Linked DNA regions of Homo sapiens: all the other regions are linked to region 2. Evidence: fine-mapped expression QTL. A gene starts in region 2. Each other region holds a variant in brackets. All regions are shown on one strand. Distances are between the middles of the regions. Region 1 has its middle 12 kb from the start of CPMER. Region 2 holds the start of MN1 (MN1 proto-oncogene, transcriptional regulator). Region 3 has its middle 50 kb from the start of CPMER.

The links. PIP is the estimated chance that this variant, and not a neighbour inherited with it, causes the effect.
Region 1: its variant is fine-mapped to the expression of MN1 in monocytes after LPS (Quach 2016, PIP 0.95). The same link has a PIP of 0.9 or more in monocytes after Pam3CSK4.
Region 3: its variant is fine-mapped to the expression of MN1 in tibial artery (GTEx, PIP 0.92).

The regions. Positions count from the first base shown.
Region 1 is chr22:27,722,583-27,730,666 of GRCh38, reverse strand. No RefSeq gene overlaps it. Among named protein-coding and RNA genes, the nearest start is that of CPMER, 12 kb to the right of the region's middle. The variant C/A (reference allele first, on the strand shown) is at 3,679.
Region 2 is chr22:27,799,693-27,804,692 of GRCh38, reverse strand. It overlaps MN1 (MN1 proto-oncogene, transcriptional regulator), which reads left to right and starts at 2,937. Exons shown (of 2, transcript NM_002430.3): 1 at 2,937-5,000. The coding sequence starts at 4,150. RefSeq lists enhancers at 1-528, 4,871-5,000.
Region 3 is chr22:27,661,478-27,669,188 of GRCh38, reverse strand. No RefSeq gene overlaps it. Among named protein-coding and RNA genes, the nearest start is that of CPMER, 50 kb to the left of the region's middle. RefSeq lists an enhancer at 1,234-1,733. The variant C/T (reference allele first, on the strand shown) is at 1,925.

The DNA of each region.
Region 1 (8,084 bases), 76 kb after region 2:
AGCAACACTCCATCCCTACAAATAATAGAATAGAAAAATTAGCTGCACGTGGCGGCGTGCACCTGTAGTCCCAGCTACTTGGGAGGTTGAGACAAGAGGATGGCTTGAGGCCAGGAGTGGAGGCTGCAGTGAGCTATGATTGTGCCACATCACTCCAGTCTGGGCGACAAAGTGAGACCTTTTCTCTAAGAAAAACAAATAAAAAATTCCAGGCCCCTTGTTCAAAAAGCAGAGAAAAATGGCATTAAGAAATGTACTAAAATATAAAGACTTTTTCCTTTCTTCCGTAGTCTCTCTCTCTTGCCTTGTCATGGCATTTTTTATTTGCTATTTAATATCCTTCTAAGTAAAGAAAAATTAAACTTTTATAAGTTATTAGCATGAATTTTACCACTCATCTTTATATTATACAATGCCTGTTTTAAGCGCAAATATTAGAGCATTTAACTTGTAAGCGGAATCACTGAAATGACAAAATTCATATTTATAGCTTGCACACACACAGGCATTTCATTATTACCAGAATGGCAGAAACGCTGCTCAAAACTAACTCAACTGTTATTATTATTATTATTACTATTATTATTGTTATTGTTATTTTGAGACATTGCCTTGGTCTGTCACCCCAGCTGGAGTATAGTGGTGCTATCCTAGCTCACTGCCGCCTTAAACTCCTGGGCTCAAGAGATCCTCCTGCCTCAGCCTCCTGAGTAGCTACGACTATGGGCACACGCTACCCTACCTGGGCTAAATTTTTAAATTTTTTGTTCAGGTGGGTGTCTTGCTATGTTGCCCAGACCAGTCTCAAACTCCTGGCCTCAAGTGATCCTCCTGCCTTGACCTCCCAAAGTGCTGGGATTACAGGTGTGAGCCACTGAGCCTGACCAAATCAACTGTTTTTATTTCACTTCTTGCCACATGCATACTGTACTAACACTCTCTACTTTTGGCTTACTGAAGAGTGAGGAAAGGCTGAAAGAAGGAACTGTGGGTTGCTCTGTCTTCCTCTTCCCTTCATTCTTTTCCTGCAGAAGTAAACATGAGTCCTTTAAGTAAACATTGGTCCTTTGTGTGTCTTAGAACATCATTGCCTCTTTCTGCCTTCAGGGTAAGGAAAAGTGCATGGAGAGTGGGGCCTTCTGGGGACGTCACCACTCCCACCTAGTCTTAGACACAGCCGGCTTATGACTGCCCCCGTCACACACTCATGAAGCTGGCCCTGCACCAGGGGTGCTACTTCCCATACAGATGGGGAAACAGACTCAGAAAGGGACAGACTCAGATGAGATCAGAGATGGCCAAACTAGGACCTCCCTGAACCTCAGTTTTCTCCTGATTGGATTGGAAATAAGATTTGCGTCATGGGGAAGGGGTATTGGTGAAGGCAGAGGTGGGGTTAAGCTCATTTCCCCTGCCTTCTACAGTTCAAGCATTTGCTTATTTATTCATTCAACAAACATTAGCTGACCACCACCTCCTGCGTGCTGGGCAAGGCGAACCTGATCCCACTCCTTGAGGAACTTCTAGTTTGGTGGATGGGATTCTCTATTCCTAGCCTAAGTGCACTGATTGGAAACTTTCAGACCCTGAGACAAACGTCAGGACTATGGTTGTCCTGTAAGTGGCCAGAGGGTTGGGCATTAGTGCTAGCGCCTGACTGAAGTGCCATGGAGATGGCTGCAAATTTGCTGGGAGTTTCAACAGCTGGAGAAAGGGCATTTCTGGAAGAGGTTGCAGCCTGGGCAAAGGGCAGCTGAAAGAGTTTCAGCAGAAACTACCAAAGCCTGGAACCTTGAGGACTAGGTGAAGGCAAAGATGGAGGTTTAAGCCAGAGTCTCTCAAAGCATTGCTCAAGGGTCATGTGACTCCAAATTCTATCCCCCCAGTTCTTTGGCCCAGGCCCCCAGCCACGATTTCGACTTGGAACTTGGCTCTCTGCATGAAGCTGAAGGAATTCCTCACAGCCCTGCTGATGGCCTAGATGTCTCAGGTTTCTTTTCTTTCCTTTCCTTTCCTTTCCTTTCCTTTCCTTTCCTTTCCTTTCCTTTCCTTTCCTTTCCTTTTCTTTCTTTCTTTCTTTCTTTCTTTCTTTCTTTCTTTCTTTCTTTCTTTCTTTCTTTCTTTCTTTCTCTCTTTCTCTTTCTTTCTCCTTCCTTACTTCCTTTCTTTCTTCTTTTTCTTTTTTCTTTCTTTCTCTTTTTCTGTTTTTCTTTCTTTTCTTTTCTCTTTTTCTTTTCTTTTTCTTCTTTCTTTCTCTCTTTCTTTCTCTCTCTCTCTTTCTTTCTCTCTCTCTCTCTGTCTCCCTCCCTTTTTCTCTTTCTTTCTTTCTTTCTCTCCACCTCTCTCTCTCTTTCTCTCTTTCCCTCTCTTCCTCTCTCTGTCTCCTTCTTTCTCCCACCCTCCCTCCCTCCCTTCTCTCTCTCTCCTAGCCTGGGGCCTAGAAGTCCCTCTGCTGAATCCCTGCATGAAAATAGCAGCTGCCTTGTTTATCCCACTGACTATATGTCCAGTAGTGTGCCAAGCCCGTGTATCTTTTCTACAAATCCTTACCCAACCCTATTGTTTTAGAGATGAGGAAACAGAGCTCAGGGAGCTGAAGTTACAACCCCAGGATCATTGTGAATGGGGGAGCTGGGCTTAAGTCCACGCCATTTGAAGCTCACCTGTGGGCCCTGAACCTCATGTTTAGGCCCGCATGCTCAAGTTTCCCTGCTCTTTCATTCATCTGCCTCCATTTCATTCATTTTATTCATCTGCCTCCATTACCTTCCCCCCTGCTTATGAACTCCTAAACATCCTTCAGAACCCTGCTCAAATGCCTCTTTGTTTTTTCAAGCACCCAACAAGGAACATTTCATTTCTCCCTCCTACAAATATTTGAGCACCTTCATATTCTAGGCATCGTGGTAGACCCTGGGGAAACACTGATGAATACACTGACTTGTTGCCACCAATTGACAAGGAAACACAAACCAGTACATTGTTATTAATTGTAAAAACAGTTATGAAGGACACGAACTGTGTGCTTTAATAAAGAATGATGGGGTGGGACTACTATGTAGTGGGTGATCAGAGAAGGTCTTTGGAAGAGGAAGGATTTGAGAACTCCTTCCAGGCAGAGGAAGCCAAGTGCAAAGGCCTAGAGGTAGGGAGAGTTTGATGTGTGTGAAGAAACAACAAGTTGGCCAGTGTGACTGGAGCACAAGGAGAAAAGAAAGACTGGTAGGAGGTGGATCAATGAAGCAGGCAAGCCTCCCTTAGCATAGTTCCCTAAGGCACTGAAGTTTAAAGGTATCTGCCTCCTTCCTGGGGCAGAGGGATCAGATCAAATCCTAGTGGTGTCGCCAGGGCAGGGCCTGACACCCAGGAGGTGTGCAGCTGAGATGGCTTGAAGCAGGGTCGGCCAGCAGGTGGTAGACAGCTCCGCCCCCTCCCTCCTTTCTTCCTTTCAAGAAAGAGGCCGGGCCCTTCCCGCATGGCTGGCTCCCCTGGGCCACCCTAAGGAACACCATAAGTCAGCTTGGTGGGGGGTGGACAACAGGGGCGCTGCTGAAGGACCCGGGAGGAGCCAGGGCGGTGCTCTTGTGGGAGTCACGCACCATCTGCAACTTGTTTTCCTGTGTCATTTGCATTTTCTCTGAAATTATTTTTTTAAGGATCCAGCCAAATGCACTGTCA[C/A]GCAGGCTGCAGATTTAAAAGAGTGTGGGGGGTTGGGGGAGAGCAATAGGCACTGGGTGTGGCCCTTCCTGGCGTCTAGCTTCCCTGAACTCACTCTCCAACCCCCTCCCAGCCAGAGGCCACTGGGGCTGGGCTCTTGTTGTGGAATGGATAAGAGTCGTGAGTCATGCACAACTAGGGCTACAGGGGCATCCCCTGTGCCTGGCTCCATGTTCAGAAAGAGCCATTCAGACTTCACAAGAGTCCTGTGCAAGAGGAAAGCCCATTATCTGCCCTGCTAGGGACACCGAGGCTCAGAGCCTGCTCACAGCAAGCAGAGGGCTGGAACTTCCAGCACACTTGCAGGGTAACTCCTATTCTCACGTTAAGGGTGGACGGATCTGTCAGATGGAATACAGGACTGCCAGATTCACAGGCTATTGTCTCTCTGCTTAGGACAGGAAGGGTTCCCAGAGGTCCTTGAGCACAACCAACTATTGTATAGCCAAGGAAACTAAGTCTTTCAAATAGACGGGAAGGGGTGGGGTCAGGGTTTGAACTAAGAATGTCTGCTTCAGAGAAGGATGAGTTATATAACTTCAGCCATAAAACAGGCACGTCCCCTACAAATGTGGGGCTGGCTCTGCTCAGAGAGGATCGTGGGGGAGGTAGACTTCTGTGTGGAGCCCCTCCCTGGTACATCATGCATGCCAGTGCGTCCTGAAGGGCTGGGTGCATTCCCCTTAGTGGGACGTGAGATAAATAATTTTGAATTCCCCATTGAGACAGCTATTTCCTCCCAATTCCTCTCATGGCATCAGGGAAAGACTCCTGTTGGTGCTGATACCTCTTTTACACCTGTCTCCAACTCATGCTTGTCTCCCTTTTTGACAAAGAAGTCCAGAGCCTTCTACGGGCAATGCTGTCCAGCTAGGATAGAGTGGAGTTTTGTCGAGGAGCCATTTGAGCTGAACCCTGAAAGGTCACTGGGAGCTTGAGAGGCAACTGGGAAGAATATTCTGTGTGGCGGGAACAGCTGGTGTATAGTACTGGAAACATAGGGAAGCGTGGCACATTTTGTAGAAAGGGGAACCACTTGATGTGACTGTAGGTGTGAGTGATAAGGCAGAAAGGGGCACAAGGGGAAAGTCCCCTGATGCCACGTGAAAGCGCCTGGGCTTTACTCTATGGATGATGGAATGGCTTTGAGCAGAAGCAAGGGTTTTGGAGGGAGTGACACTAGAGGCAGCTAGGCAGTTACAGGATTCTATCAGTACTCCAGGCTAAAGATGATGGTGATCTGCAGGAGGACAGTGGTTGTGGTGATGAAGTCATCAGACCTGGCCTAACCACTAAGTTTTGCATAATGGTAATAGTGATGATGATGGTAACCATATGGTGAAGAAAATAGTGATGACGATGGTGGTGATAATGGTGGTGGTGATGGTGATGATTTTAATGATGATGATGGTGATGGTGCTGATGAAGGTGATGATGATGGTGGTAACAATATAATAATAGTACCAACTGACATTTACTTTTGCATTCTTCACCTCAATGTCATTATGAGACCACTTTCCCGTGGGATTGACACCACTTTAATCCCCATTTTTCACATGAGGAAACTGAGGCTTGCCTATGGCCACCTGGCTACAGAGTGGCAGAGTGGGGCTGGGGTGCCAGGTTGGCCTGGCCTGACTTCTGAGCACTGAGCTCTGGACTCCATGCATCCTGTTTCCAGCCAGCAGCTGGGAAGGGCTGTACCCTAGCCTTCCCCTGTGCCCAGGGTGCTGAGATGTCAGGTTTCTCTCTTCCTAGGCCCTTGTCCTGCTCTGACCCTATGGGCTAAGCCTTTGAAGGCTCTGGTTGCACTTTCGGCTGGGGGCTTGTCATCCCCTTCGCATCAGTAGCTGTGCTCTGGTCCCAAGCAGGAGGGAGGGAAACCTTTCCACAGCCCACAGCCCTTTCATGCCAAACCCTGGCCTGAGTGAGATGAGTGTGGAGGAATTTGGTCATGTGGATCTAATTTCTCTTGAAATATGCAGCAAATGGTGCTGGACAAAGGCAGGCTGCATTGGCTGGACCTGAAATATGTAGGTGACTGCTTCTGAGATGTTTGACAACTCCAAGACTCAGCTGAATGGGCCTGCAGTACCGGGCTGTGGCAACTGGTCCGGGAGGGAGCAACTGAATGCCATAGCTCATTCCATATGTGTGCCAAGGACACATGGACAGAGACCAAGATGCAGGGAAATTGGGCCAGGCTGGGTGACGTGCAGAGCAGGGCTGCGTAGGCAAAAGGGACCCTTCCAAATGGCACAGCATCACATAGTGTCAAGAGTGAAGTTTAGAAGTTATTTTTACATTTTCCTACTTCGTGTGACCTGAGTCTCTTGACCTGGCTGAGCCTTAAGGGTTTCTACTGTCAAATGGGGAAAGCAGATTTGGAGGGAATGGAACAGAGCCAAACTGAAGTAGGAGGCAGAACTCAACTCCAGAGGTGGGGCTCAGACACTGGACCAAATTGAAGACTAGCTAAAACAGGGCCAGGATGGAAGCAGCTTTCCACAAGACTCCCCTCACCCACCAGTGTGCCATCTCAGTTTACCATTGCCATGGCAACACCTAGAAGTTATGCCCCTTTCCATGACAACAACCCAACGACTCAGAAGTTACCATCCTTTTCCTAGAAATTTCTGCATAAACTGCTCCTTAATTTGCATGTAATGAGAAGTGGGTATAAATATGACTGTAGGACTGTCTCTGAGCTGCTACTCTGGGCACACTGCCTATGGGGTAGCCCTGCTTTGCAAAGAGCAGTACCTCTGCTGCTGCACACTGACACTTCAATTAAAGCTGCTGTTTACCACCACTGGCTTGTGCTTGAATTCTTTCCTAGGCAAAGGGAAGAACCCTCCCAGGCTAAGCCCAAATTTTGGGGCTCACCTGTTCTGCATCAAAAGCAGGCCTTTTTGTTTCATCTACACAGAATATACCCCCACCAATCCCACAACCGTCCTTTCCTTCCAGGCATCTGTTCTTCCTCTTCTCAATAAGTGCTTCTGCTGGGGGCTGCCAATCATACTATCCCACTCTCTGACTGCTGTGACTGGGCTAAAGATGGTCATGTGACTCTTAGTGGGCCAATCGGAGCTCTTCTCTGGGATTTTTGCCCTTGGGCTGGATGAAGGCAGCCCCTTTTCCTCCATGAAGATGAGTCCTGAGCTGTCTGTGGCTGTGTCCCCCACTCTGTGAAGATAAGGAAAAAAGAAAGTGACCAGTAAAAAGAGAGGCAGATGAAGTCAAAGGCAATGTCTAGATGAGGTTGGCATCCTGGGAGCCTGTCTCACACCTGTCCTTCTCACAGAATTTTTGGTAACAAGAGCTAAGAACAACTCCTGTTTTGCTTAAACTAACTGGATTTGTGTTTCTGTCTCATACAACTAAAACCATATTGATAAATGCAAGCCTTTCCTGGCTTCCAAGGTGCTGTGTGGTTCATTACCCTTGTTGTTCCTCAGAGCCACTCTTGAGATGGGTATTCCTATTTACAGATGTCAATAATCATAATCATGTCAATTTCCCAAGAACTCAATGCTGTGCCAGCTACTGAGCTGAGCTTCTCTTAGAAATTATTATACTGAATCCTACAGTGCCCCTGGAGGTAGTGTTTATTATTTTCTCCATTTTGCAGATACGGGAATAGAGGTGCAGAGGGTCAAGGGGCTTACTCCAGGTCACACAGCTGACAAATGACAGAGCTAGAATTTAAACTCAGGTCCAGTTTTCAACCTCCATGTTACTAGTCTGTGCAGGTGGTATTGATGATGAAGAGCAAAGATTTATTGAGCACCTACAGGGTGGCAATCACTTCAAACATGTTGTCTCTTTTAGTTCTCATGATGGTCCTATGAGGTAGACACTATTTTTATTCCCATTTGGCAGATGAATACGTAGAGGCTTAGGGAGGTTGAGTGACTTACCAAATACCAAGTGGCTAGAAAATGGCAGAGCCACAATGACTGTGTTATTTCAAAGCTGGTGCACAGAAATTCTACTTTGTAGGCTCTGTGGTGTTAAACTGATTGGAAAAGTCCTCAATTTCTCTTTACCCACTCCTTCTCTTATCTATGCCCCTTTATGATGTGGCTTTGCAGCTCCTTCCATCAAAAGATGGAATCTATTCCCCATGTCTTGACTCTGGATGTCTTAATTAGCCCAGGCTGCCAGAACAAAGTACCATAGACTGGGTGGCTTAAATAACAGAAATTTATTTTCTCATAGTTTTGGAGCCTGGAAGTCTGAGATCAGCGTGCCAAGCATGGTTGGATGCTGGTGAGGGATCTCTTCCTAGTTTGCAGACAGCCACCTTCTTACTGTGTCCTCATGTGGTAGAGAGAGGGAGAGATCTCTCTGTTAATTTTCTT
Region 2 (5,000 bases):
GGCAGCTGCACACACACAGGTACAAACGCAGTGGCTCACACACACAGAAATGCGGGGTTGGGGGACAGACAGAGAACATGCACCAAGACCCCCAAAGATCCATGCACGAACGCCGACGCAGGCATGGACAGAAACACACGCAGATGCCCCGCCACCCGCATACAAGCAAAGGCACAAAATGCAGACGTGTGCCACACACCCGCACAACATTTGCAGTGTTAAAGAAAGGTGACCGAGACACACATCCTGAACAGAAACTTCACCAGGTCCAAACACTCCCTTCTTTCAGCCACTCACACACCTTGTGGAGCTAACTCTTGGAAACAGCCCCAGAAAAATACTCCCACACCCCCCCTCCCTGGAGCACACGGAATTATTCCACAGGAAACCTGCCCAGGTGTGCTGGAGACCCCCACCCAGCCCTGTGTGAAGTCATGCCTCAGCTCTGCAGACGCCCCCATCCGGGTCTCCCCAGACGACAGGCCTGTGAGCCATTCTTCCCACTCTCCTGGCCCACCCCCAGGCTCCAGACAGGTCCCCACTTTTCCCTATTTCCTCCAGACACAGAAACACAGGCGGCTCATAGGTGCCTCAGGAGACACCCATAGTCGAGAGCAGACTGAGTGTGTGACCCAGTATCTTGGACTATGCCCAGGCCTTTGCCCATGTGGGGGCCTCTTCCTCACAACCAGGTTTTCCTATTGCCTCCCGCTTTTTGTCCAGGAGGTTCAAGATCCCCCCTGCTCTGTCTCGGGAGCCCCAGAGCCCCAGGGTCCTAGGCCCCGGGGCGGGCGGGGGGGGGGTGTCACTGGAGGGCCTACCCAAGCCTTTATTTCTTTGTGCCTAAATCAGCAAAGCCTCAGTCTTTTCTCTGGCTCTCACTTCCCTGTCACTTTGCTAAGTAATAATTTCCATGTCCAATTCCATTTCTTTTCTAGTTCTGAAACCTCTAAGCTATCAGCAAGAGGATAGTTCACATGAAAACTAATTACACAAAATCAATATTTAATCACAGACCAACAACCTGATCCTGCAGAAAAATCCTTTAAAAACTCCACCGCCCTGTACAAATACTTATTCCCTATGCTTATTTATGGACCCCATTTTTGATGGGGGTAATTTTCATTTTTAATTTCAAAAAAGAAAAAATATATATGTCTGTAAACTTCCACAACAGGAAGGCCCCGGGAAAGGTCTTGGATCTGAGCTTGCTCTGGCTGAGTTTTAAAGTTGTTGTTTTTTCTTGTTTGTTTATTTTTAATTAAAATTTTTTTTGGGCGGGGGGCAATTTCTTAGGAATTCTGCCGCTACCCCAAAGTTGAGCCCATTTCCCCCCACCCCCGGCATGTCGGTTCTGGCATACTTAGCACTGCCTTCCTAGCCGCAACTCAGGGGAGCAATGAATCTGCGCGTACGACATGGTAACTTTTTAACTCCTGCCCGCGACGGTGGAGTGCTTAATCTAAGGTTTTTAAATAAAAAGGGCTCAGGGGTTGGTTTTATTATAACGTTTATTTCATTTCAGATTTCATGCGTAATTTAGCAAACGCTAGACAGACTCGGGCGATAAACACTTTCTTTTGTGGGGGGGGAAAGGCATTTTCATACACCACGCTTAATTTTATTTAGATTTAATAGCGATATCAGGGGCACTTCAAAGAAAGTTCTTTTTTCGCCCTTCTCCTAAGAATGCGAATCTGCTAGCAAAATCGCCTCGTGCTATTTTATGGCAAGGAAAATTAAAGGCCTTCTCCCCCCTCCTTCCCTACACACACTTTAGGGAGGAACACACACACACACACACACGCATGCACAAACACACGCACGCAGGCGCGAGCACACGCACACAGGCGCACAGAATAAACACCTCTATCCTCCATCACCTCTAACTTCCAACTTCTAATTGCAAGATAGATTTCAGCCTCTGTGGGGATCAGGACGATCTAAACATTTTAACTAAGATTATTGGGATAAATATTTCATAAAGAGCAGGGCAGATATTAAATTACTCCTATTGATTTTAGTATCACAGCCCAATTCCATTCCTCGGCCTCTTCAGTTTAATTGATCTCTTAAGGAGGCCAACTTCGCACCCGCAGAGGGTCTGGGTCTTGGACCGGGTGGCCCAGGGCAAGGTGTGCGGCCCGGCGGGTGCGCCCTCTTCGTGCGTGTCTTCTCGGGGTTCCCAGCCGCCTCGCAAGTCGCTCCGGTTACTGGGCTCAACCGATGTGCTCCCCCATAAAGTGGCTGAGTGACTGTGACTCCTTGGAGCCCACGCCGGCCGGTGAGAACCGGGAACCCCAGGCAGTGGGGAAGGGGAACAATTGTGAACGCCCTAGTGACGGAGGAGTGAGCAAGCGCCCAGGTCTCTCGAGGAGAACCCTAACTTCGAGGTTCCCCGTCTGCTTTACCCTCCAAGAAAATCCCAGGGCCGGCTAACTTGGGCGCCGCTAGCGGAGAACGGAGTGTTCACCCCGGAGCCGAAGTGCAGTAGACACTTAGCGACTTTCCGTGGCGAGTCTAGGGTCTTTGCCTGGCGACCTCATTGTCTGAGCGCCCCGTACCGCTCACCGCCCACCTCCCCGCCCCCTGCCCACCCGGTGGGTCTCGCTCCAGTTGGGGGTGGGGAGTTGGGAACAGTGTGAATGGGAAGGGGGTGAACAAAGCCAAGCTCCCGCCATTCTCCTCCGCCTGCACCCTCTCCAGCTCGATGCGCCCGGAGGCCGGGGCGCGCCCCCAGCGCACTGACGCCGGACCCCGAGGAGAGGCGGGCGCAGGGGACCCCAGAGCTGGGGTAGTGCGGGTTCGTGGCGGGGGCTTCGGCAGCCAGGACCCCGGACCACCTTAAGAGCGAGCCCCGCCCCGAGCCCGGAACTTGGGCGGCGCTGATTGGTGCAAATGTAATGGCTGAAATTGATTGCTGAAATGCAAAACTTGTTGCTGCTTCTCCCGGCGCTGGGCGAGAGGCAGACACAGAGAGGGGAGCCGAGACCCTCGGAACGCCCCACGCAGAGCCCCCCCGCTAGTCGGGAGAGGGGTGCGCAGACCCCCCAGAGCTGCCCCCGCGCCCCCCTCCCCCCATTCCGGGCTCTGAGAGCGCAGCGGGAACGCCTTAGCCTGCTCGCCCGGCGTGGCCCCCCGACCCGCGTACGCCCCCCTCCCTCAGGTCCGAGAGGGACTCGCGAAGCACCTCAGCGCGGAGGCAGGGAACCGGAGCCTTGGAGCGACCCAACCCCTCGTCTCGCTGCCCTCCCGCGCCTGCAACGGTGCGCGGAGACTCCGGCGAACTCAGACACCCAACGGCGGAGAACAGAAGCGGCAGGCGGCGGACGTGGCCGCGAAGCTGCGCGCCGAACGCAGCGCACCCGCTGCCGAGCAGAGGAGCCGCGCCTTTCCCCGACCCTCGGCTCCAGCCCCCGGCGCCTGCCGCCTCGCAGCCCCTCTGCGTCCTCGGCTCGGGGGCCGGCACCGGCGATGCCGAGCGGAGCCTCCAGTCCTCCGACCCGCTGAAGAAGCAGCAGCCGCTCGCCCGGAGCCTACGGGGATTGTGCGAGCGGATCGTGCTCGGTGGAGGCTCGGGCTGCGGGGCGCGGGGACTCCGGGGGGCGGGGGGAGGGACCGCTCTGTCGGTGCCCGGCGCCAGCCGCGGCTTTGAAGGGTCTCCCTCCCCTGCCCTTAGCAGCTCTGCCACGGACTCCGGGAGGCTGCGGGCGGCGTCCTGAGGGCTCCCCAGCAGACCCAATCGGACTTGAGAAGGTGATCGCTCTGCTCTCCCAACCCCCTTCCCTCCCCATTCCCCCCACTTAACTTTTTGTCTCCGTTCATCCGCGGCTTCGTCCCCTCCCCGCAGACCCACCCGCGGCTGTGACAACCGCCCGGGGCATGGGCCCCCCAACACGGCTCCTAGAGGCCCCGCGGCCTCGCAAGATGTGAGAGGCCCTCCCCGGGCAGAATCGGAGCTTCAGGAGAGGAGCTAATACCCCGCCCCCCGTCCCTCACATCAGGCGGGGTGGAGGTGCGCGCTGAGCCCCCGCGGTGCTGAGCGTCCCGGAGCGCCCAATCCTGGGCTGGAACGAGTAGCTGGCCGGAGGCGCGCCGCGGAGAGCCGGCTGTCATGCCCTATTGATCCCCCTCTGCCCCCCGCCAAGTATGTTTGGGCTGGACCAATTCGAGCCCCAGGTCAACAGCAGGAACGCTGGCCAGGGCGAGAGGAACTTTAACGAGACCGGACTGAGCATGAACACCCACTTTAAGGCCCCGGCTTTCCACACTGGGGGGCCCCCTGGCCCTGTGGATCCTGCTATGAGCGCGCTGGGCGAACCCCCGATCTTGGGCATGAACATGGAGCCCTACGGCTTCCACGCGCGCGGCCACTCGGAGTTGCACGCAGGGGGGCTGCAAGCGCAGCCTGTGCACGGCTTCTTTGGCGGCCAGCAGCCTCACCACGGCCACCCGGGAAGTCATCATCCCCACCAGCATCACCCCCACTTTGGGGGCAACTTCGGTGGCCCGGACCCCGGGGCCTCGTGCCTGCACGGGGGTCGCCTGCTCGGCTACGGCGGCGCAGCCGGAGGCCTGGGCAGCCAGCCGCCCTTCGCCGAGGGCTATGAGCACATGGCGGAGAGCCAGGGGCCTGAGAGCTTCGGCCCGCAGCGACCGGGGAACCTCCCGGACTTCCACAGTTCAGGTGCCTCCAGCCACGCCGTGCCGGCCCCATGCCTGCCGCTGGACCAGAGCCCTAACCGAGCCGCCTCCTTCCACGGCCTGCCGTCCTCCAGCGGCTCCGATTCCCACAGTCTGGAGCCACGGAGGGTGACGAACCAAGGAGCCGTCGACTCGCTGGAATACAATTACCCGGGCGAGGCGCCCTCGGGACATTTTGACATGTTTTCGCCCTCTGACTCCGAAGGGCAGCTGCCTCATTATGCAGCGGGTCGCCAGGTTCCTGGGGGCGCTTTCCCGGGCGCCTCGGCCATGCCCAGAGCTGCGGGCATGGTGGG
Region 3 (7,711 bases), 140 kb after region 2:
TCCAAGCCCTCTCTGGCACTTGCTGTGTGACTTAGAGCAAGTGAATCAACTACTCTGTGCCTCTGTTTCCTCACCTGTAAGTTGAAGATATTCACAGTGTTTATGTCATAGGGGTCTTATGAGGATGAAATGAGTTCATTCATGCAAGATGCTTAGCATGGGTCCTGGCACACAGTAGGTGCTCAATAAACAGGAGCTGTTAGGAAGGCATGGGGAATGAAGGACATGTGGAACATGGGAACCACCAGCCAGTGGTTGGTAGGGAATGTCTAGAGCCCAGAGTGGGGTGTTGTGGCCCCATGTGGAAGCTTGGGGAACCAGGGCTTAGCCTTGTAAAGAGAGTGGGTGGGGGCAGGGCAGGGTAAAGGCTGGGAGGTTCTGGCAGGAGGCAGGAATTCTAGGTGAGCAATACTGGGGCGATGAAACTAGAGCAGAAATGGAGGCAGGGACGAGAAGGAGGTGGAAAGGAGGGGCTTGGAACCTGTCTAAATGTGGCAGGAAGAGGAGGGGTGTCATCCAGGAGAACCGTCCCGGGTTCCAGTGGAGGAGAGGAACCTACAAAGGGAGAGATGGAGCCCCTGACTGGTGGGGCCAGCCACTCTCTGAGAGTCTCTGAGGTGCCCAGCCTGGCCCAGGAGGTATCATCATGCTTAGGGTGGCAACAAAATTTGCAGGCTGCCGTGTGAAACAAAACTGCAGTCCTCCTTGTTTAAAAGGCAGGAAAAATGTACAGTAAAGGTACTAAAATAGGAAATGTTTGCCCTTCTTCCGTGAGTCTCTTCTGCTCACCTGCATGCTTCACTGCCCCACTGGGCTTCACTTACAAAACATAGATAGGTGCAGAAATTAAGAATTTCAAGATGGTGGCCGGGCATGATGGCTCACATCTGTAAACCCAGCACTTTGGGAGGCTGAGGTGGGCAGATCACATGAGGTCAGGAGTTCAAGACCAGCCTGGCCAACATGGCGAAACCTTGTCTCTACTAAAAATACAAAAATTAGCTGGGTGTGGTGGCGCATGCCTGTAATCCCAGCTACTTGGGAGGCTGAGGCAGGAGAATCACTTGAACCTGCGAGGCAGAAGTTGCAGTGAGCCGAGATCACGCCACTGTACTCTAGCTTGGGCAACAGAGGAAGACTCTGCCACACACACACACACACACACACACACACACACACACACACACACAAAGAATTTCAAGACGGTAACAGCAAAACATAAACCCAGCTTGGAGCCTTTCTGAGCGCCGGGCTCTGTGCAACTGCAGAGATCTCATGGCCGTAAAGTTGGCCCTGATTCATGCCCATTCTGCAGAGGAGAAAGCTGAAGCTCAGAGAAGTGAAATATCCTGGTATTCTCACTCCAATTCCAGAACCCCCTATATTCTGCACCCCCTTCCAATGCTTGCTCATGTCTAATTGTTATTCACCAATCTCCAGAGAAGGGTTCGAAGCAATTGATGGTAAAATGCAGGAGCTGTTAACACAGGTGCAGTGGAAGGCACACCATGACCCTGAGGGAGGACGCCGGCCTGGGAGCTGTGTGACCTTGGATGGGCCGTGCAAACTCTCTGTGCCCACAGTCCCTCTGCAGAGACTGGTTCAGAACTCCTGTTTCCCCAGCCCCCAAGCCTTGCCTCCCTTCCTGACCCATATTCCCCTTGGTGTCTGAGGCTTGAAGCGGTTATAAAAAATAAAACCACAGTCCCCTGATGTGCTTTCTGGCTTCTCAGGCCTTATTTTTTTTGGCCGCTAAGGAGACTAATAAATGGCTTGCCACTTGACGTAATCATTAAGGGCTCCACTGAGCTGTGGGCAGTGTTTTCTCTCCTCCTTGGCCGGGCCTGGGGCGCACAGCCACCGAGGGTGGCAGTGATGGATGGTGTCATCATGGGGCTTGCCCGGGGGAAGTGCTGGTGGTGGT[C/T]GGCCATGGCTCTCTCTCCTGCAGGCTCCTGGGCTATTCATTATGCGAAGGAGGAGCTGAAGCGTGGGGGTGACGGCTGGCTTCCAGAAGGAGCATGGACTGGAATTCCAGGCGGAGTGTGGGCCAGGGTGTATATAAAGATTAGTGTTCGGGTGCAAAGAGTCAATTGATGAGTGGCCAATAAACAGAGGGAAGGAAAGCAGGGTATAATCCAATAATATACATTAAAACATTTTCTGAAGTTAGAAAATTGGTAAAAACTTTAAAAATAGAATTAAAAAATTAAAAATTAAAAAATTACGTGATTGTTTGCAAAAATGTTCTTAATTTGCCTCCCTTCTCTGTATCTGTATCCTTTGCAATGTGGCTTTGCAGTTCCTCCCATCAAGAGATAGAGTCTGTTTCCCACTCCTTGAATCAAGCCTCAGTCATGTGACATGTTTTGGCCAATAGAATGTGGTGGATGTGATGATGTGATTCTGTACCTGTTCTGAACCTCGGCCATAAGGGACTTGCAGCTTCGATTTGCTAACCTGAAATTCTGCTGCTGCCATGGAACAAGCCTGGGCTAGCTTGGGGGAGGAGGAGAGACCATGTGGAGTAGAGCCAAGCTCTGGACATTTGAGAGAGCCCGGTAATAATCAGCAAAATCAGCCAGTGATGCACAAGTAGGCTGATTGAGATCAGAAGAACCAGCTGACTGACCTGTGGATGCATGAGCAATAATAAATGCTTACTATTTTAAGCCATTGAGTTTGGTAATGGTTTGTTACACAGCAATAGCTGACTGATACAAATCATAATGCCCAGTATTGGTGATGGTGTGGGGAAATAGGCTTTCTCACACATAAGTAGCAGAACAGTTTGCTAAAATTTTGCATATCCATTGAAGCAACAACAACAACAACAAAAAATGAAAGGGTTATTATGGAGATTCTTTTTTTTTTTTTTTTTAAGAGACAGGATTTCATTTTGTCACTCAGGCTGGAGCTCAGTGGTGCAATCATAGCTCACTGCAGCCCCAAACTCTCGGGCTCAAGTGATCCTCCCACCTCAGCTTCCTGAGTAGCTGGTATTACAGATGTGTGCCACCAAGCCTGGCTACTTTTTCTTTAATTTTTTGTAGAGATGGGGTCTACCTATGTGGTCCAGGCTAATCTCGAACTCCTGGCCTCAAGCAATCCTCCCGCCTTGGCCTCCCAAAGTGCTGAGATTCCAGGTGTGAGCCACTGCTTGGAGATTCAATGCCTGGGCCAAATGCCTAGCATAACACTTAACACTTAAAAAATGCCCAACATGTCTTGGTCCCTTCTCTGTGGGCATATCACAAAGGGCAACAACATTTGGAAAGCTTATTCATAGTCTCTGTTTTGGGGATGGATTCCTTTAGAAATCCTAAAGAATTTGTTTCTTATGGACAAAGATTTTATCAACGAGGATGTCATGACAGCATTGATTATAGCAGATCAGTAGAAACAAACAACCTGACCAATGCTGTTACAACACTAGTAATAACCATTGTTACTTATTTTGCTGTTTTGTTTTTGCTTATTACCACTTATTTTTACTTACATTGCTTGAATCAATTAAGGTCTAGCTACAGGCTGAAATTCAGTTCAGCCATAAAATTAGGTCTTAGAAGAGGACTTATAGACATAGGGAAATACACTTTCTTACATATAACCAGCAGAGGGGCAGTTTGCTAAAACTTTGCATTTCCATTGAAGTAACAAAAAGATGGAAAGGTCTTTATAGGTTCAAGGTAATATTATCATTTTGTGGGTCAAATGTTCAGGCTGTTAAATGAGAATAAAACCAGATTACAAAATAGAATTACATTGTGATCTCCATATACCTGAAAAATTGTTGTTTTACATCTGTCTCTTTCTTTCTTTAAATCTGTGCAGAAAAAAAATATCTGGAAGAGAGTAATCTATTATAAGATGTTGTCTGGGTTTGTCCCTGATGTTGGGCTACAAGTCTCTTTTTGGTCTTCATCTTAGTGCATTTATTTTAAGCTTCTTCTGTGCCAGATGCATACATTTGGAGTCTCTTTTACTCCTTACAATGAATCTGTGATGTGAGTACTAGGACTGTCCCCATTTCACAGATGACGACATTAAGGGTTTGAGAAGCACCTTGCCTGATGTTCCACAGCTAGTAATATAGGCAAATACCTACATTGCCAGATTGTCTACAATATGCATTTACTGTCTTGATAAAATTAGAAAAAAAACCCTGAAGTTAATTTTTAACAAAAGAAAGACGGAAGATCAGTAACCACCCTCAAGATGTAATGGTGTCATCCAAGATGGGGCCCTGGGCAGACAGGAGCTCCTGGATAGATTTGAGGATTCTAATGGGCCTGATTTTATGGGACGATGACCATCATAGGAGGCTGCGTGAATAGTGGTGCAGAGTGGGAACCGAGGAGAGTGACTGTCACGGTCCATGTGGGGCCAGTAGTACATCACACTCAGAGAGACCTTGACCCCTGGGGGCACTGACTACAGACCCTCAGCTCCACAAGGGACAGGACGTGTCTGCTGTGTGCTTGGCTGGATCCCCAGAACCCTGCAAAGCTCCAAAAGTAGGAGCTCAAGGAACATGAGTTAAGTGAGTGAATGAATGAATGAAATCAGAAGCCAGTGGCCAAGATGAGGAGGGATCTGGAGAAATGAGAAATAGTGCCTGCTGGGCGTGGTGGCTCACGCCTGTAATCCCAGCACTTTGGGAGGCCGAGGCAGGTGGATCACTTGAGGTCAGGAGCTCGAGACCACCCTGGCCAACATGGTGAAACCCCGTCTCTACTAAAAATACAAAAATTAGCTGAGCATGGTGGCACGTGCCTGTAATCCCAGCTACTCGGGAGGCTGAGGCAGAATAATTGCTTGAACCCAGGAGCCGAAGGTTGCAGTGAGCCAAGATGGTGTCACTGCCCTCCAGCCTGGGCGACAGAATGAGACTCCATCTCAAAAAAAAAAAAAATTAAATTAAAAATAAATAAATAAATGAGCAACGGTATGGGAACAACTGCTGGTGTCTCCCCACCAGCCCACTGCACTCTCTCAAATTCCCCCACTCGTGTTTCCTTCTTGGTTTGCAAAAAAACAAGAGCCCCTCCTGCCCTCTTCTGCTGAAGTTCCCCTTTGCATTTTCCAGACCTGGAGGAACCCTGAGAAACGATCTCACCTTACATTCTCAGTTGAGATTTAGCATTTTTTTTTTCAAACAATCTTTTCACTCTGATGAACAAAGAATTAGTCACTGGGGAAAACGGGAAGAGTGATAAAAATATGATGGAGCAGAACGCTGCCCCTGCCCCACCTTTCACCTTTCCACCAGCAGAACAATCAGGGTTGACATTTGGCAGCTCTAGCTGCTTTAGGTGTTGGGGGCCACCTACAATTTGAGTCAAACAGGAGATTCCTCCGCTTCTTCACACTTCACAAAGGTCTGGTCTGTCATGTGGAGAGGAGGTGCGATCTGTTCAGGGTCTCTCAGTGAACCAGGGGCAGGCCTGGGGCCGGGACCTGTGCTGCCTGCCTTGTGCACTTATTGGACAATCGTGGTTGGGTGCTATCTGTACATGAAGACAGAATTGAGGCAGAGAAGAGTGTAGTGGTAATCCCAGCACTTTGGAAGGCTGAGGTGGGAGGATCGATTTGAGGCTAGGAGTTTGAGACCAGCCTGGGCAACATGGTGAGACCTTACCTCTACAAACAAAATAAATAAATAAAAAATAGCCAGGAGTGGTGGCACAAGCCTGTAGTCTCAGCCACTCAGGAGGTTGAGGAGAGAGGATTGCTTGAGCCCAGGAGGTCAAGGCTGCAGTGAGCTATCACCTCGCCACTGCACTCCAGCTTGTGCAGCAGAGCAAGATCCCATCTCTAAAAAGAAAAAGAAAAAAGAGCAAAGCAGGCTCCAAAGCAGGTGGGAGATGTTTCTCTGAGAGGTGACCTCTGAGCTGGGGCCTGAGGAATGAGGAGCGGCAGGAAGGCTGGAGGAAATGCCCAGGGTGAAGGCCTGGAGGCTGGCTTGGTGTGAGCAAGGCAAAGAGTGAGAGGAGACGGGGTCAGATTGCTGGGCAGGGCCAGGACACACAGGGTCCTGAAGGCCATGGTAAAAGGTGAGCAGAGGGTTTTAAGCAAGGGGGAGACGTGACTGGATTCATGTCCTAAAAGGCCACTGGCTGCCGTGGGGCTGAGGCTGGAGTTCTGCCGAGGCTCTGCAAGTCCAGCCCCTGGCACATGGTTCTGATGGGACCCTGCCCTCCCTCCAGCCCTCTGGCATCTCTCCCAGGGAGAGCGCAGTGGGTGGGTCCATTGGCTGGGCCACAGGCCAAGGCCTCCTTGCATCAGGGAGATAGTGGATGGGGGTCAGGGAGCGCCTGCCCTCACTGCAGGGAGATGGGAACAGCAAATCCCTTCCCCGGCCTGGCTGGGGCCTGCCTGCCCTGCACGCTCCCAGTGACATCCCACTCCCGTTCCAGGCATCTGCCAAAGCAAGGCTGGCTGTGTTCTGCTTTGCTCAGCTTCCCTGTGACTTCAGTGTCATGCCATGTGAGGGGCCCAATGACCACAACTCACTGGGCATCCAGGTCAGGCCAGAGCCTGAACTAAGCACCTCTTATCAGCTCTGGCATATCACACCGGCCCCCCCAGGCTCAGACTCAACCAACGCTCAGGGACACGAAGTCACCTGCTGAGGGTCACACAGCCCATCATGGGTGCAGTGTAGGACACATCTCTGCAGGTCCCTCCTGCTCCACCCTAGGCTGTACCTCTCAGCCCTTGGGGATGCCCAACACTAGGTGAGAGGAAGAAAGGTGGGGGAAGGGTGTTCCAGCCAGTGGGAACAGCATATACCAAGTCCTGGGTGGACAGTGTATATATTTTTTTGTAATTGCGTTATTGAGATACAATTTACATACCATACAATTCACCCATTTGAAGTACAATTCAATGGTTTTTTTTTTTTTTTTTTTGAGACGGAGTCTCACTCTGTCACCCATGCTGGAGTGCAGTGGTGTGATCTCGGTTCACTGCAGCCTCTGCCCCCAAGGTTCAAGTGATTCTCCTGCCTCAGTCTCCCGAGTAGCTGGGATTACAGGTTCGTGCCACCACGCCCGGCTAATTTTTTGTATTTTTAGTAGAGATGGGGTTTCACCATGTTGGTCAGGCTGGTCTCGAACTCCTGACCTCAGGTGATCTACCGGCCTTGGCCTCCCAAAGTCTTGGGATTACAGGCGTGAGCCACCATGCCCGGCCTTAATGGTTTTTAGTATAGTCAAGAGTTGTGTAACCATCACTACTGTCAAATACCAAAACATTGTCATCACCCCCAAAAGAAATCCTATAATGTTAGCTATCACCCCCTACCCCCTGACAATCATTAATCCATTAATACTTTCTGTCTCTACAGATTTTCCTATTCTGGATATTTCAGATAAATGGAATCATACAATATGAGACCATTTGTGTCCGGCTTCTTTTTTTTGAGACAGGGTATTACTCTGTCACTCAGACTGGAGTGCAGTGGGACGATCATAGCTCACTGCAGCCTCGACTTCCCTGGCTCAGATCATTCTCCCACCTCAGCCTCCTGGGTTGCTGGGACTACAGGTGTGTGCCACCACACCCAGATCATTTTTTTGGTATGATTTGTAGAGATGAGGTTTTGCCATGTTGTCCAGGCTGGTCTTGAACTCTTGGGCTCAAGTGATCCCGCCTTGGCCTCCCAAAGTGCTGGGATTATAGGTGGGAACCTCCATGCCTGGCGGCATCT